Regions from separate parts of the Homo sapiens genome. Here region 2 is linked to region 1. The links come from fine-mapping of genetic effects on gene expression. A gene starts in region 1. The other region holds a variant in brackets. All regions are shown on one strand. Distances are between the middles of the regions.

Region 1 (8,726 bases):
GGTTAAAGGATGCCATCAATTCACAGGTGAGACCCGAAGCCCTAGGAACATAATGGGCAGCTAAGGTCACAGTGGGTCCCACCACAAAAGGGGCTCTGAGTAACCAAGTCACCATAGAGAAGTTGAATCAAACGTGGCAACTGTGTCTATGTGGACGGCGTGTGGGGACAGTGAGCTGAGCTGGGAGGTGGGAGTCCTGAATTCTAGCCCTGTCGCTCCTACTTTCCTCTCTGAACCAGGAAGGCGTTGAAGACATTGGGTTTTAGGGTCCCTTCCAGCTCTAGTATCACAGAATCATGATTCAAATAAACCCTCTCATTTTAAGCACTGTAGAGGTTGCCAGACTTTAAAAGAAACCTGGTTTTAGCAATCAAAAAAAACCTCAATTAGATTCAGGCCTTGGCCTGGAGGCTGCTCCCTCCAGGATTCAGCCCTGGTCCCCAGGGCCTGAGCTCACTTAAATCACAGCAGGTGTAATATTATTCTAACTGCCTCTACACAGTGATTGCTATCCCCCTGCTCAACCCCTGAGGGAACATTTGACAATGTAAGGAGACATTTTTGGTTGTCAAAACCCAGGGTGGGCCAGGCGTGGTGGCTCACATCTATAATCACAGCACTTTGGGAGGCCCAGGTGGGTAGATCCCTTAAGGCCAGGAATTCCAGACCAGCCAGGCAACACAGGGAGACTCTGTCTCTACAAAGAAAATTTTTTTAATTATGTGGGTGTGGTGGTGCATGCCTGCAGTCCCAGCTACTCAGGAGGCTAAGGTAAGAGGATCACCTAGGCCCAGGGAGGTCGAGGCTACTGTGAGCTGTGACTGTGCCACTGCACTCCAGCCCGGGTAACAGAGCAAAACCCTGCCTCAATAAATAAATAAATAAATAAAATACAACCAGGGTTGGGAGGTGATGTCCTCTGATGGACAGATTCCAGTGATGTTGTTAAACATCCTACAATGCCCAGGACAGCCCCATAACAAAAAATTTTCCAGCACAAAATGTCAATAGTGCCAACAGTGAGGACCCTGCTTCAGGCCATTGCTGTCCAATAGAAATAAAATGTGAACCACATAAACAATTTTAAATTTTCTAATAGCCATAGTAAGAAAAGTAAAAAGAAATGGGTGAAATAAATTTTAATATTTTATTTAACCCAATATATCAAAAATATTGTCCCTTCACATTTAGTCAATATTTAAAAATCAGCATTTTCCATTCTTTTTTCATACTAGGTCTTCAAAATCTAGTGTGTTATTTGATACTCAGAGTACACTTTGATTTGGACAAAGTGTATTTCAAGCACTTGATAGCCATGTCTGATGACTGTGTAGTGGATGACAGGTCTAGACAATGAGCTCTGAGGCCAGAGATTGGGTCTTGCTCGCACTACATTCCCTAGGCAGGGCACATAGCACTCCCAGTTTTCATCTCCAGCCCTGCCTGCTGGAAATACATTCTCCACATTCCCGGGAATCTTATGGGCATCTCAAACTCAAGACTTCATTTATTTAAAAAAAATTTTTGTGATGACAGGGCCTCCCTATGTTGCCCAGGCTGGTCTTGAACTCCTGATCTCAAGTGATCCTCCCACCTTGGTCTCCAAAAGTGCTAGGATTACAGGCGTGAGCCACCGTGCCCGGCCATTATTTATTTTAATTTCGAAGATGCGGGTCTCACTATGTTGCTCAGGCTGGTCTTGAACTCCTGGGCTCAAGGGATCCTCCCACCTCAGCCTTCCAAACAAATGGTACTACAGGCGGGTGCCACTGTACCCAGCTCAGTGTTTAAAAACAGGACTCTTGTGGTCAGGCGCAGTGGCTCACTCCTGTAATCCCAGCACTTTGGGAGGCCAAGGCGGGCGTACCTGAGGTCAGGAGTTCAAGACCAGTCTGGCCAACATGGCGAAATCCCGTCTCTACTAAAAACACAAAAATTAGCCAGGCGTGGTGGTGTATGCCTGTAACCCCAGCTACTTGGAAGGCTGAGATGGGAGAATAGCTTGAACCCGGGAGGCAGAAGTTGCAGTGAGCCGAGATCGTGTCATTGCACTCCAACCTGGGCAACAGAGAAAGATTCCGTCTCAAAAAAGTTAAAAACAAACAAACAAACAAAAAACAAAAAAAAGAACTCTTGACTTTCCCTCTGAAACCTGATACGCACGCCAGTCATTCTTGGGAAATGGTAACACCATTCACTCAGCTACTAATAAAAATCAGCCGGGTGCGGTAGCTCAGCCTGTAATCCCAGCACTTTGGGAGGCCAAGGCGGGTGGATCAGGAGGTCAGGAGTTCAAGACCAACCTGGCCGAGATGGTGAAACCCCGTATCTACTAAAAATACAAAAAATTAGCCGGGCATGGTGGCAGGCACCTGTGATCTCAGCTACTTGGGAGGTTCAGGCAGAGAATTGCTTGAACCCAGGAGGCGGAGGTTGCAGTGAGCCGAGATCGCGCCACTGCACTCCAGCCTGGGCAACAGAGCGAGACTCCATCTCAAAAAAAAAAAAAAAAAGAATAAAAACCTCAGGTCCTGTAGTCTTTTCTTTCCTAACCTCCACTTCCAGTCCCTTAGCAACCTTAAAGCTATCCCAAATGTGACTTCTCAGTATCCACTGGTTCCACCCTACTCCAAGTCACCATCATCTCTTACCTGACAATGGCCTCCTAAGCGACCTGCCTGCTTCATCTCTTATGCCTGGAAAGGCCACTCTCTACAGAGAAATCACAGCCCTTCCCTTCCTAAACATCCTCCCAGATAAGATGGCTTCCCACTACATTTAGAATGAAATCCAAGCGCCTACAAGACCCTGCACAATCCATCTCTTACACTACTCTTGATGTTCAGCCACAAAGGCCTCCTTTCTGCTGCTCAAACTATTTGCAGCCTGCCGCAGGGCATTTATGTGCACTGGTATTTCTCTCCAGTGGAATAATCTCCCCCTAGTCACCTCAGAGCCAGCTCCTTCTCAATCACTGAGGTCTCAGCTCAATGCACCTCCTCAGAGAGGCCTTCCTTAACACCCTATCTCACCTCCTCTGCAGTCCTCGCGCGACACTATCACAACCGTCTTAGTTCTTTCATAACACTTACCAGCAGCTGAAATTATCCTTTCTCTAGCTCTTGCACTAGAAAGTAAGGCTATGAGCAGATGCCAATACTGCAAACTCCCCAGAGCCTAGAAGAGTTCCTGACACATAGCAGGTCCTCAAGAAATATTCTTGAAGAGATGCATAACAACGGTAACCCTTACTGAGCTCCCATAGTGTGCCGACTGGTTTATTTAGTCCCCACAGCAACCCCATAAGGAGGGTGTTATTTTTTCGTCATTTCACAGAGAAGGAAAATGAAGCACGGAGAGGTTAAGCCATTTGCCCGAGGTCTCACAGCTACAGCGAGCAGGGCCAGGATGAGAACCAGGCTTGAGACCACAGCACCCGAGGGCGGGGTGGGTCGCGGCCCCTCTGCCGGCTCGCTGGCCGGGCAGCTCCGCATTCCGCCAGTCTGGGCAGCTGGAGACAAGGCAAGAGCCCCAGCTGGAGGGATGAGCGCCCCAGGGCTCAGATCTGTCCGATCACCTCCTGTGGGTCCGATGCAGCGGGTGCCTGCCCCTCTCCCAGCCTCACTCCCCCACGCCAGGGAACCGATACCTGCACCGGCGTCATGTACGGGAAGCCCAGCTCCCGCAGCGCGCCCAGCACCTGCGGGTGCAGCGGCACAGGCAGCGACTCCCAGGAGCCCTCTGTCACATGCTCCATGGCGCGCTCCTTCGCCGCGTCGGTCGCCGCTGCTCGAACGCGCCTTGTGCACCCCCAACGAGCACTTCCGCTTCCCGCAGCTCCAGCGGCCGGCCGGGAACTTCGCTGGAGCAGCAGAGTTCCGGAGCGCGGCGAAGGCTCCCACGCCGCGGGAGGGAGGAAAGGCGTCCGCGGGACGGTGGAGGCAGGCGGCGGGGCAGGCCTGGGGAGTTACACCCGCTCCGCACAGCGCCCTGGGCTCCGGGCGCCTCTCCGCACCGGGCAGGAGTTTTGGCGGGAGGGATTCTGGCCCGGCCCTCCCACTTTCTCTGCCCCTCGGAGGCAGGTGGCAGCACAGGACCGCGTCCAGGCCGAAGGACAGCGGGGCTGGCTACCGTGGGCAGAGAAACGTGTCGGGGACCCGGGTTAGCAGCCCTGCAAAACAGGCACCCGCTGATGGCCGGTACGTCCTGAATGTTGCGGTCCGATGGCCGGTACGTCCTGAATGTTGGTTTACTTTCCCGGAAGTTAGGGTCAGAGTCCTAACTAAGAACACTGTCCCATTCCTCTGTTCACTGTTTGCCTGGGCCATTCATGTCCACATACAACTTCACTCAGAAAGCTGTTTTTGTTGTTGTTGTTGTTGTTGTTGTTGTTTGAGACGGAGTCTCGCTCTGTTGCCCAGGCTGGAGGCTGGGCGCTATAACGGTTCACTGCAAGCTCCGCCTCCCGGGTTCACGCCCTTCTCCTGCCTCAGCCTCCCGAGTACCTGGGACTGCAGGCGCCCTCCACCACGCCCGGCTAATTTTTTGTATTTTTAGTAGAGACGGGGTTTCACCGTGTTAGCCAGGATGGTCTCGATTTCCTGACCTCGTGATCCGCCCGCCTCGGCCTCCCAAAGTGCTGGGATTACAGGCGTGAGCCACCGCGCCCGGCCTTCACTCAGCAAACTTTTATTGACCACTCATTATGTGCCCTCTATGAGGGCCTATCTCCTCCACCTATGTGCATGGCTTGCTCCTGTTGAGGCTCTGAAAACGAAACCCCAAAATGAAGGCCCCAGAGGCAGCCTCAGAAGCAAGTTTCTCTCTGACCTTCTGCTCCCTCTCTGATCTCTGATTCTCTGAGGCTAGCCATAGAAACTCAAGAATCCCTCTTGCCCATGACGGAGCATAGAAACAGGAATCCCTTTTCTCCACAGTCAGCCATAAAACCTAAAAATATTACTCTCTCTCCACCTTTCTGTGAAAAAACTGGCCATAAAGAAATTATTGGCCTGGCACGGTGGCTCACGCCTGTAATCTCACCACTTTGGGAGGCCAAAGCGGGCAGATCTCAAGGTCAGGAGTTCGAGACCAGCCTGGCCAATATGGTGAAACCCCGTCTCTACTAAAAATACAGAAATTAGCCAGGCGTGGTGGCGCATGCCTGTAGTCCCAGCTACTCAGGAGCCTGAGGCAGAAGAATCGCTTGAACCAGGGAGGTGGAGGTTGCGCCACTGCACTCCAGCGTGGGTGACAAAGCGAGACTCAGTCTCAAAAAAAAAAAGAAAAAGAAATTATCTGGGCTAGGTGCGGTGGCTCATGCCTGTAATCCCAGCACTTTGGGAGGCTGAGGCAGGCGGATCACCTAAGGTAAGGAGTTTGAGACCAGCCTGGCCAACGTAGTGAAACCCTGTCTACTAAAAATACAAAAAATTAGCCAGGTGTGGTGGCAGGTGCCTGCAGCTACTCCGGAGGCTGAGCTACAAGCATCGCTTGAACCTGAGAAGTGGAGGCTGCAGTAATCCTAGATCGCACCATTGCATTCCAGCCTGGGCGACAGAGTGAGACTCAGTCTCAAAAAACAAACAAACAAACAAACAAACAAACAAAAAAAGGCCAGACGTGGTGGCTCACACCTGTAATCCTAGCACTTTTGGAGGCCAAGGCGGGCAGATTGCCTGAGCTCAGGAGTTCGAGACCAGACGGTGAAATCCCGTCTCTACTAAAAATACAAAAAAAAATTAGCCAGATGTGGCAGCGTGCGCCTGTATTCCCAGCTACTTGGGAGGCTGAGGCAGGAGAATTGCTTGAACCCGGGAGGCGGAGGCTGCAGTGAGCCAAGATCGCGCCACCGCACTCCACCCTGGGTGACAGAGAGAGACTGTCTCCAAAAAAAAAAAAAATGTATCTGACCTCCTTTGTTTTGCTGGTAGGTTGTAAGACCCCATTCCAGGAAGGGTTCTTTCCCCTATCCAGAAGGAAAGAATCCAGACAGGCCTCGCTGGGCTTCCCCACTCAGTCTATGAGCATTAGATCATGCCCTTCTTGTCCAGTCCTATTTCTACTCAGCTGTGCATATTTTGTTGAGCCTAAGCATAAAAATAGTTTTCCCTGTAACTTTGGGTCTTAATTCTGAAGGTTCCTTTGTCATGTAAAAGCATGACCGAATAAATTTGTATCACTTTCCTCCTATTAATCTGCCTATTTTCAGTTGAATTTTTAGAGAAACCTGAGAGCAAAGGGGAAGTTTTCCCTTACACTCCCTTACATTCCACTTGGACTTTTGAAATCAACTTCTGTTACCTTCCTTTCTGTATCACTGAAACTCCTACCTTGATTTATGTTCCCTTCTTAGCATTTACCATTATCTCTTTCTCGCCACACACACACAAACACACACACACACACACAAAACTTATTAGGTTCATCTCTGCCACCAAAATGTAAAACCCACACTAATAGGGTCTTTTCTCTATCTTCTTTATCCCAAGGACTATCACTGTAGCACACAGCAATCACTCAAATATTTGTGGGATTGATAAATGGGAATACAACTCATGCAGACTGCAGTCATCTCAAATTAAGTAAAAGACAACAGCCTGAAGCCACATTTTCAGTGAAATGATCATCACATTCTCAAAACACCTTTGACAACTTTTATAAAATGGGACTTCGGCTAGGCACGGTGGCTCATGTCTGCAATCCCAACACTTTGGGAGGCTGAGGCAGGAGGATCACTTGAGCCCAGGAGAATGAGGCCAGCCTGGGCAACATACAGGAGACTCTGCCTCTACAAAAATAATTTTTTAATTAGCTAGGCGTGGTGGTGCATGCCTGTGGTCCCAGCTACTCGGGAGGCTGAGATGAGAGGATCACTTGAGAGGTTAAGGCTCCAGTGAGCCATGTTTGTGCCACTGCACTCCAGTCCAGGTAACAAAGCAAGACCCTGTCTTTAAAAAACAAAAAATGTAGTCCCAGCTACTTGGAGAGCTGAGGTGGTAGGATCACTTGAGCCCGGGAGGTTGAGGCTTCAGTGAGCAGAGATCAAGCCAACCTGGGAACAGAGTGAGATCCTGTCTCCAAAAAAAGAAAAGGTGGGAGACTTCACAGACAGTTCTGAAAGCAAAGGCACAGGGAAATTACATATCTGTGTGTGTCTTCTGGGCTCTACTACCTACTAGTTTTCTGACCTTAAGACCCTTTCCAAGCCTGTTTTCCTCCTCACTTCCAAAATGGTTTTACCCAAGGTAATGGCAGTTTTGAAGCATGAATAAGACAGACCAAGTAAAGTGCTTAGTACTAGATCGAGACATTACACAGTACTCAAGAAATGGTAGCTACTTTTATTACCAGCAGGCCGTTAGTTTCACAGAGGAAGAACAGTTTCTACAGGTGGTGATCTAGTCTCCGGTTCCACCTTTCACTCTTTTCTGTGGCCTTGGGCAAATCATTTAATCTGTCTTTGAAGCTATTTCCCACATTCATAAACTACGTGGGCAAGTGAAAATAATTCAACCCTTTTTTCCCAAATAGAAAAATACTTAAGATTTTAGCACTGATCCATCAGAGAAGCCACACTGGAAAACCTACGCAGAAACTAAAACTTGGTACCATTCACTATCCTCAAGTTTATAGAATTAAAAAGTAACAGACGTAATAGGTATAAATACTCAGAAAACATGAACATGTCTCATGTCAAATAAGAACAGAAAGTTGGTGTGTAAAAAATGTGGATTAGCTGTCAATATATAAAACACAGAATACTGTTTTTAAAAAGAATTGTTTATTTACCGAACCTGGGGCATATTAGATACAACCAATTTTAAATTTACATCTTTTAAATCAGTTTTGAAGTGTTTCACACACACAAAAAACTTGGCATGCAACAGTTGTCCTAAGGTGAAAGTCACCTCATTAATAAACTGTTGCAAGTGTTCTCACCCAAGGTGGAAGTATGGTTTATCCTGAACATGAAAACCTGTAACAAATTTAAATTAATTATATAAAACTCGTTACTTGTAGTTTTGCCCTTGCAAAGATCCAAAAAAAAAAAAAAAAGCACAAGTAACTAATATGTATCAGTCACAACATAATCCTGGATCATCCCCATACCAAAACCGGATGCTCTTTTAATTTTAAACCCATCATCAGAGAACAAGAGAAAGTAATTTCATTTTACACAAAACAAGATTCACATGTGCCAAAAAAGAAAGACCCAAAAGAAACAAAAACCAAAACCCTAATGCTGACACTGATGGTCAGTACCCTGAACAGTGGCCCAAAGGCCACTGATCAAAAATAAAATAGTGGCTGTATATCAATGAAATGAAATCCAAGAAGCTTTAACCCTTTGGCATCAGAAATCCAGATTTTTCCAATTATGTAAATGCTTATTTCTTACATGCCAAGAGTGGGAGAAGTGAATGTGCCAATGTGGAAAGAAAAAAAGCCACCACTCACTGGGACACCCAGAGAATTGGCTTTAACAGACAATTAGGGGGTTAGGCAGAAACCCAGAAATGGTTATTAGCTGCTTGTGTCATCAATTTAAGTGGAGATGACTGAGTCCTAAGGTACAATGTAAAAATGTATGTGGGAAAATGTATGCTGAGTCGTAGTTTTAAAGCAAAACAAGAAAACAAAGTATGAAAGTACCCAGCCTGGCAGCATACACCCAAGTCAGAGAGCTCTGCCATTAGGACGGGCAGAAACCGTCAAGATTCATA
Region 2 (8,000 bases), 120 kb before region 1:
GTGACCATCCCCTTAGACAAAACCACCAGGTTTTCAGAGACCCTGCTCTTAAATGCAAGGCCCAGTGGGAGGCCAAGATCAAGTTCAAAGAGTGGAACAAGACTGGCAAGAACAAGTGGTTCTTCCAGAAGCTGTGGTTTTAGATGTTTTTTGTTTCAGTCATTAAAACAAAACAAAACAAAACAAAACAAAACACCTAGATTCATGAAACTAATAGTACACCAGCCAAAACTAACTACTTTATTTGGTTTATGTTTTCGATTCCATGAAGCATCCCTTTCCTTAGGCTAAAAGTCACAATATCTGTTAGTCATTATCAGGCCTAATATTTAGAAGTGTTACTAACTGGTTTACAGAGGGAGAGAGGCAGGTAAAGAAGTAAGGAGGAAAAACAAAAAGAAAAAGAAAAGAAACTGTCTTACCAAGATAGCAAAGGAAGCACTGGGTCTAAGAGGTTTCTAGAAATGAACGCAAATTGTTTTAACCAATTTATACTTCAATTTATTCTTTTTTTTTTTAAGAGACAGGGGTCTCACTATGTTGCCCACGCTAGCCTTGAACTCCTGGGCTCAAGAAAGCCTCCTGCCTCTACCTTCAGAGTAACTGAGACTATAGGTATGTGCACCACCATGCCTGGCGTACACCTAAATTTCCTTGAGAGGTCCTTTTTCACTGTTTTAAGTCTGCATTCTTATGGGGTCATACCCTGCTGCCCAGGCTGGAGTACAGTGGTGTGTCATCCTGGCCCACAATAACCTCAAACTCCTGGGCTCAAGCAATTCTCCCACCTCAGCCTCCTGAGTAGCTAAGACTACAGGCACATGTCACCATGCCTGGCTAATTTTATTTTTTGTGGAGACAGGGTCTCAGTATGTTGCCCAGACTGCTCTCAAACTCCTGGACTCAAGTGATCCTCCCACCTTGGCCTCCCAAAGTGCTGGAATTATAGGCGTGAGCCATCGTGCCCAGCCCTGCATTCTTTTGAAACAGTTTAAGCTACAGGAAGTCCTGGATATACCTAATGTGTTATCACATTTGCCCTGCCTTTAAAAACCTTATTCTGAATACACCATCTATCCAATGACTCACCCAGGTTGCAAAGACAGGAATATGGTGCCACTAACGTACATGAACCACACAAATAACTAGGACCTCAAGCAATATGAATAGGACTAGATTTCAAATGACTAAAATTTCCTGTTACACTTAAAAATCCCCAATTTAAAAAAAATAGGCCGGGTGTGGTGGCTCACATCTGTAATCCCAGACCTTTGGGAGGCCGAAGCCAGTGGATCACCTGAGGTCAGGAGTGTAAGGTCAGCCGAGAGAAAGGAAGAATAGACCCAAAGTCAGGTGAGTAAGTTTATTGAACCTGCCGGCTGCTCCACGACAGAGGAGGCAGCCCTGAACTTACAAAATGAGGGGTTTATACGGGGGAGAGAGACCCTGGGGTCGTTTGTTGGTTAACTTTGCCATGTATCACCTTGTGACCTTTACAGTAGCAGCTAAATGAAGGAACTTACAGGAGGCCGTAGGCAAAGTTTGTTTAGGCTTCCCACAACCTCCCCCTGTGTGGTCCGGATGGTTTATAATTGTGTTTTGCTTATCGCAGGAAGGCCTGATAAGTGAAGTTTGCTGGCTTCACTGGGGCACCTAGATAAGGGCTTAGAAATGTTAAAGGGGCTCAGGGGGAGGGGTAGGCAGCACGGAGAGCTTTGGGGGAAGTGTTGGCAGTACCAAGAAGCTTTTTTGGGGCGGTTTGTCCCTAACAAGGAGTTCAAGACCAGCCTGGCCAACATGGTAAAACCCCATCTCTACTAAAAGTACAAAAATTAGCCAGGTGTGGTGGCACGCACCTATAGTCCCAGCTACTAGGGCGGCTGAAGCAGGAGAATCGCTGGAACCCAGGAGGCGGAGTCTGCAGTGAGCCAAGATCATGCCACTGCACTCCAGCCTAGGTGACAAAGCAAGACTCCATCTCAAAAAAAAAAAAAAACAAGCTTTGTCCTTCAGTTGACTGTCTGTCATTTTCCCTCCACTTCAGTGAGAATGTCAAGGCTTGATTTGATAATGACTAGTACCAGACTAAGATGGTAAAGACTTTAGAGATAAAAGAAGTGGCCCTGGGCTGCTTAGTTGAAATGGTTAACAATCAGCACTGATCTAACACACTGGCAAAGGAAGCCCTGAGAAAAAGGAAATTATTGTCAATCACTCTATCTTCCATTTCCCGCCTCCCTTGTTCCTTGAAAAAATTTTAAATTAAGTAACTTATTAACAAGTACAATGTTTTTAAGTTATAATAAACTACAAGGGATCGGTTAAATAAGCCACAGCACATTAATATTAATACAATCAAATAGTATGCTGCCATCAAAAACGATGATGGGTAAATATCTATGTCTACTGACACGAAAAGATGTTATAGTAAGCACTGTTAAGTAAAAAACAAGGGTAACAACAAAATAACCAGGCCATTATGTTTGTAAATTTTTACTTTTATAGATGAATAAAAAAATACAGAAAAATAATACATGCCTACATAACTGTGATTACTTCTGAATGAGAATACAATTTCTTTTTTTCCTTTCTGCTTGTCTATATTTTCCAATATTTTTAAACCGAACAAGGTTTGCCTATATAAAGGTAATTATTTAAGTTGTTAAATCAGAAAATAAACTTACCCAATATTCGCTCTAGCTCTTCACACCTCTTCACCTCACCAACAAATTTTCTTTGGAAAGAACTTACGTTCTGGTTGAGCTGAGAAAAGGATGAAAAATATGGTTTAAATTTCTAAAATTTAAAAATACTTTTATGTAAAAAATAAAACATCACCAAAGTTTGGGGGATGTACACTCTTGTATACTATTGAATGAAACTATAAACTGACACAACTTTTCTTGAGAGCAATTTGTCAACTGTTACCAAAAAAGCCTGAAAATCCAGCCGGGCCAACACGGTGAAACCCCAACCCTGCTAAAAATACAAAAATTAGGCCGGGGCGGTAGCTCACGCCTGTAATCCCAGCACTTTGGGAGGATGAGGCGGGCAGATCACTTGAGGTCGGGAGTTCAAGACCAGCCTGGCCAACATGGTGAAATCCCACCTCTACGAAAACACAAAAATTAGCCAAGCATGATGGCAAGTACCTGTAATCCCAGCTACTCGGGAGGCTGAGGTGGAAAAATTGCTTGAACCCAGGAGGCGGAGGTTGCAGTGAGCCAAGATCGTGCCATTTGCACTCCAACCTGGGCAACAGGGCAAGACACTATCTCAAAAAAAAAAAAAAAATTAGCCAGGCATGGTGGCGCACCTAAGTAATTCCAGCTACTTGGAAGGCTGAGGCACGAGAATTGCTTGAGCCCGAGAGGCAGAGGTTGGATGGAGCTGAGATCACACCACTGCAATCCAGCCCAGGTGACACAGTGAGACCCTGGGTCAAAAAAAGAAAAAATCCTGAAAATGATTATTTGCCCAGCAATACCCCATGAAGAAAATTTAACCTAAGGAAAAAGCTATGGAAACAGATGAAAATCTATGACAACATCAATCTCAGGGAAAAAGAAAAAATGATAACCCAAAAATCCAACAATAGAAAACTAGTTCAAGAAATTACAGTAGCGTAGTTAAAGAAATTATAGCCAGGCACAGCAGCTCGTGTTGATAATCCCAGCAATTTGGGAGGCTGAGGTGGGAGGACTACCTGAGGCCAGTAGTTTGAGGCCAGCCTGGGCAACATGGTAAGACACCATCTCTCCAAAAAATAAAAAATTAGCCAGGCCTGGTGGTGCACGCCTGTGGTCCCAGTTGCTCAGAAGGCTGTGGCAGGAGGATTGCTTGAGCCCAGGAGATCGAGATTGCAGTGAGCAGTGATCACACCACTGCACTCTAGCCTGGGTGACAAAGCAAGAGCCTGTCTCAAAAAAAAAAAAAAAAGAAAGAAAGAAAAGAAAAGAAATTACAGTCTATATCCACACAATGGAATGCTACTTAGCAATAAAAAGGAATGAACTACTGACCCATGCAACAACAGGGATGACTTTCTCTTTTTTTTTTTTTTTTTTTTTTGAGACAGAGTTTCGCTCTGTTGCCCAGGCTGGAACGTACTGGCAGTATCTTGGCTCACTGCAACCTTCGCCTTCCAGGTTCAAGCGATTCTCCTGCCTCAGCCTCCCGAGTAGCTGGGATTACAGCCAAGTGCCACCACCCCCGGCTAATTTTTGTATTTTTAGTAGAGATGGGGTTTCACCATGTTGGCCAGGCTGGTCTCAAACTCCTGACCTCAGATGATTCGCCCACCTCGGCCTCCCAAAATGCTAGGATTACAGGCGTGAGCCACCACGCCCACCCTGGATGACTTTCATACTAAGTGAAAGCAGCCAGACACAAGAAGCCACATACTGTG[C/T]GATTCCACTTACATGGAATGTCCAGACAACCCTAGAGGCAGCAAGCAGATTAGTGGGTGCTGGGGGGGTGGGGGTAGGAATAAGGATTAACTGTAAATGAGCATTAAGAATCTTCTGGGGTGATGGAATGTTCTAAAACAATTGTGGCAATGGATGCATGACTCTATAAACTCTTTTTTTTTTTTTTTGAGACAGGATCTCACTGTCGCCTAGGCTGAAGTCCAGTGGCGCAATCTCAGCTCACTGCAACCTCTGCCTCCCAGGTTCAAGCGATCCTCCTGCCTCAGCCTCCTGAGTAGCTGGGATTAAAGGCACGTGCCACCACACCCGGCTAATTTTTGTATTTTGGGTAGAGATGGGGTTTCGCCATGTTGTTCAGGCTGGTCTCAAACTGGTGGGCTCAAGTGATGTGGCTGCCTCAGCCTCCCAAAGTGCCGGGATTACAGGTGTGAGCCACTGCACCCGGCCTCCATAAACTTTCTAAAAATCATGGGTAAACTCTACCATACACCTCAATAAAGTTGTGTAAAAATGACCAGGTATTTGATTATATTAAGAAATGTTATTTAAATTTTCAGGTACAATGTTGGTAATAATTTTTTATCTTCTAGGCCAGGCCTGGTGGCTCATGCTTGTAATCCCAGCACTCTGGGGGGCCAAGGTGGGGGGATGACTTGAGGTCAGGAGTTGGAGACCAGCCTGGCCAACATGGTGAAACCCCGTCTCTACTAAAAATACAAAAATTAGCCAGGCGTGGTGGCGCGCGCCTGTGATCTCAGCTGCTCAGGAGGCTGAGGCATGAGAATCACTTGAACCTGGGAGGCAGAGGTTGCAATGAGCTGAGATCGCGCCACTGCACTCCATCCTGGGCGACAGAATTGAGACTCCATCTCAAAAAAAAAAAAGAAAAAAAATTCATCTTTTAGAGGTACTTGTTGAAAAGTTAAATTATATATCTTGGATTTGCTTCAAAATGATCTAGTCTGGGAAGTGAGAAAAAACTAAGTTTACATTTATGGGTACATGGGGGTACACTGTACTCTTCCCTCTACTTATAATATAAAGTTTAAAACAATTTTAAAAAGTTGTAAAAGAATATTTAATAAAATTAGGAAGTTAGTCATGATTTCTGTGTAAAGCAGATTAGGATGTTTTCAGTGTGGTTCAAATTATATAAAAATACATATATATGGACATTTTTAAACATTATTAGAGAAATGCTGATTGTCCAGTATTAGCCAAAAAGTTAAAGTTAATTTCTAGGCGTTGGGATCATGCAAGGTATGTTACTATTCTTATGTTTTCCACATTTCTCACAATGGTCATCTATCACTTTCATACTTCAACAATTTACAGTATATCATTCATGTTGAAAGCCATTTAAGACACGAAATTTATCTTTATTCCATCCAGGATTTGTACTGGGCACTCTCAAGAAACAGTTAAGATACAACTTGACATGAAACTGCTCAACCTGGTAAGTGTCTACTCAGTGTCTGACTCAGTTCTTGTTCATTTTTTGGGGACTTTTTTTTTAAAAGAACCAGAAAAAAGGTAAAAATTCTCATTTCACTTCTGTTTGTCACCTTCTCATTCATTTCTGGAGGTCGAACTAAAAGTAACCACTTCCAAGTTACTAATGATTCAGACACAATCTAGTTCTATGGAACTTGTTGGAAAGGAAGTTCTGTGTCTAAAGCTGTCACAGGATACTACTTCTCAGCTTTCATTTTCTTCCTTCAATATCAAATAGTACTTAACTCTAAATGGGCATGATGTTTCTACAAATAGTAGAATCTTTATTTATAAAGAGGTAAATTTCTGTGGCAATAATACAAACATGGATTTCACATACATACACCACCATCACCAGCTTACATATATTAACTTTTTTTTGAGACGGAGTCTCGCTCTGTTGCCAGGCTGGAGTGCAGTGGCGCGATCTCAGCTCACTGCAACCTCTGCCTCCTGGGTTCAAGTGATTCTCCTGCCTCAGCCTTCTGAGAGTAGCTAGGACTACAGGCACACCCCGCCATGCCCAGCTAATTTTTGTATTTTTAGTAGAGACAGGGTTTCACCATGTTGGCCAGGATGGTCTCGAACTCTTGGCCTTGTGATCTGCCCGCCTTGGCCTCCGAAAGTGCTGGGATTACAGACGTGAACCACCGTGCCCAGACATATTAACTTTTTTTTTCTATTGTGTGGTTTCTTTTATAAATTTTGGGTTTTTTTTCCCTTTTAGGGCAGCACCCTAATTCAAGGCTAATGGAATAAGGTACATTTTAATGTAGATTCAATTCAAGGCACATTTAACCTAGTAAAACCGGCAGAGGAGATCTGGTGCTGTTTGTTTTGATATTCACAGCCATTGATACTCCCACTTCAGCTGAAGGACTAAAGAGGAAACCTGTTCTTAGACTGAGAACTGTAACAAAAGTGCGAACTTTCCCTTCAGGGAGTCCTCCCCATCAGCTGAATGACCTTTCTTTTCCAGGTACTTCCCACTAGCTGTCACCACGGAAGTCACCACCTGCCCCCCTTTCCCTTGCAAGGGTTACTAACAGTGATCCCATCTGGTCACCACAAAGTCAGTAGGAAACTCAGGCTGAAGACACACTGAAAACCTAGCACCACACAAGAGCTCATCGCAGCAACCTTAGTTTTACTTCCTTCTGGAAAAAGATGAACAGCACTTTCTTCTCCTTTCACTGACATTCAGTTGAAAAGGATCCCAGGTACACTCTATGACTGGAGGTAGTGGCGCTTATTGAAACTGGAACCTTCATAGTGATTAGTACGTTTGCTCAAACCTGTAAGACTGAAGTGTGATAAGTGTCTTGGCTTGAGTACTAACCGGAAGGAAAACATCTACCTGTTACAAATGTAGGAGCCTGCTGCACCTGCAGCTGTTGCCTGAATGTTTTGGGTGCTATTCACAGCTCAGCGCAGCATCCATCAGGTGAATGGGTACAACTGCAGAAGTGGCTCCAGGAACCAGGAACCGCCCTGCATCTTACCTGCACCCTCGCCTGTCACTCAGGAGTCTCTCCATGACTTTGCAACTGCCTTATGGGGCTGATCTGGTATTAGATATCTGATATCAATGGATATCAGATCTCGGGTAGGGCTGATCCCTTTTGAAATTAAGGACACCTTAGGAAGATTAAGGGAAACAGTCAGGAGATGAAAGTGGTGGCCAGGAAATAAAATGTTCGCCTGAGTGGATTTCAATTCAGTCAGTAAGTACTTGCTTCACGGTCTCCCTTCCACACCCTGTTCTTTGCCTTCTTAGCACTTATCACAGCTCATAATCAGAGTGTGTTTAATCTGTCTCCTCCCACACTGGAAGCTCCAGGAACACAGGGACTGTGTCTGCCTTGCTCACCACCGAGTCTCCAGCACCAAAAACAGTGCCTGAACATAGCGGGCAGTCAAGAAAAGCTTGTCTGTTCATTCAACAAATGCCTATCGATGCCAATGACTGCCAAGGACTGCGTTAAGGTACTTACTCTCAGAGGTTGACAGTCCTTGGTGGAGACAAACAATAAACAAGTAAATGGACAAACAAATGTTTATTATTACTTGTTGGGG

Evidence for each region. PIP is the estimated chance that this variant, and not a neighbour inherited with it, causes the effect.
Region 2: its variant is fine-mapped to the expression of DDX55 in spinal cord (GTEx, PIP 0.90).

The regions. Positions count from the first base shown.
Region 1 is chr12:123,597,180-123,605,905 of GRCh38, reverse strand. It overlaps DDX55 (DEAD-box helicase 55), which reads right to left and starts at 3,807. Exons shown (of 14, transcript NM_020936.3): 1 at 3,650-3,807. The coding sequence starts at 3,757. TMED2 (transmembrane p24 trafficking protein 2) reads right to left here. Exons shown (of 4, transcript NM_006815.4): 4 at 7,324-8,726. RefSeq lists an enhancer at 3,046-3,095 and a silencer at 3,336-3,445.
Region 2 is chr12:123,713,386-123,721,385 of GRCh38, reverse strand. It overlaps ATP6V0A2 (ATPase H+ transporting V0 subunit a2), which reads right to left. Exons shown (of 20, transcript NM_012463.4): 2 at 2,685-2,763. LOC105370042 (a long non-coding RNA gene) reads left to right here. Exons shown (of 3, transcript XR_945477.4): 2 at 5,823-5,886; 3 at 6,652-8,000. It also overlaps the pseudogene RPL27P12. Among named protein-coding and RNA genes, the nearest start is that of ATP6V0A2, 5.0 kb to the right of the region's middle. The variant C/T (reference allele first, on the strand shown) is at 4,409.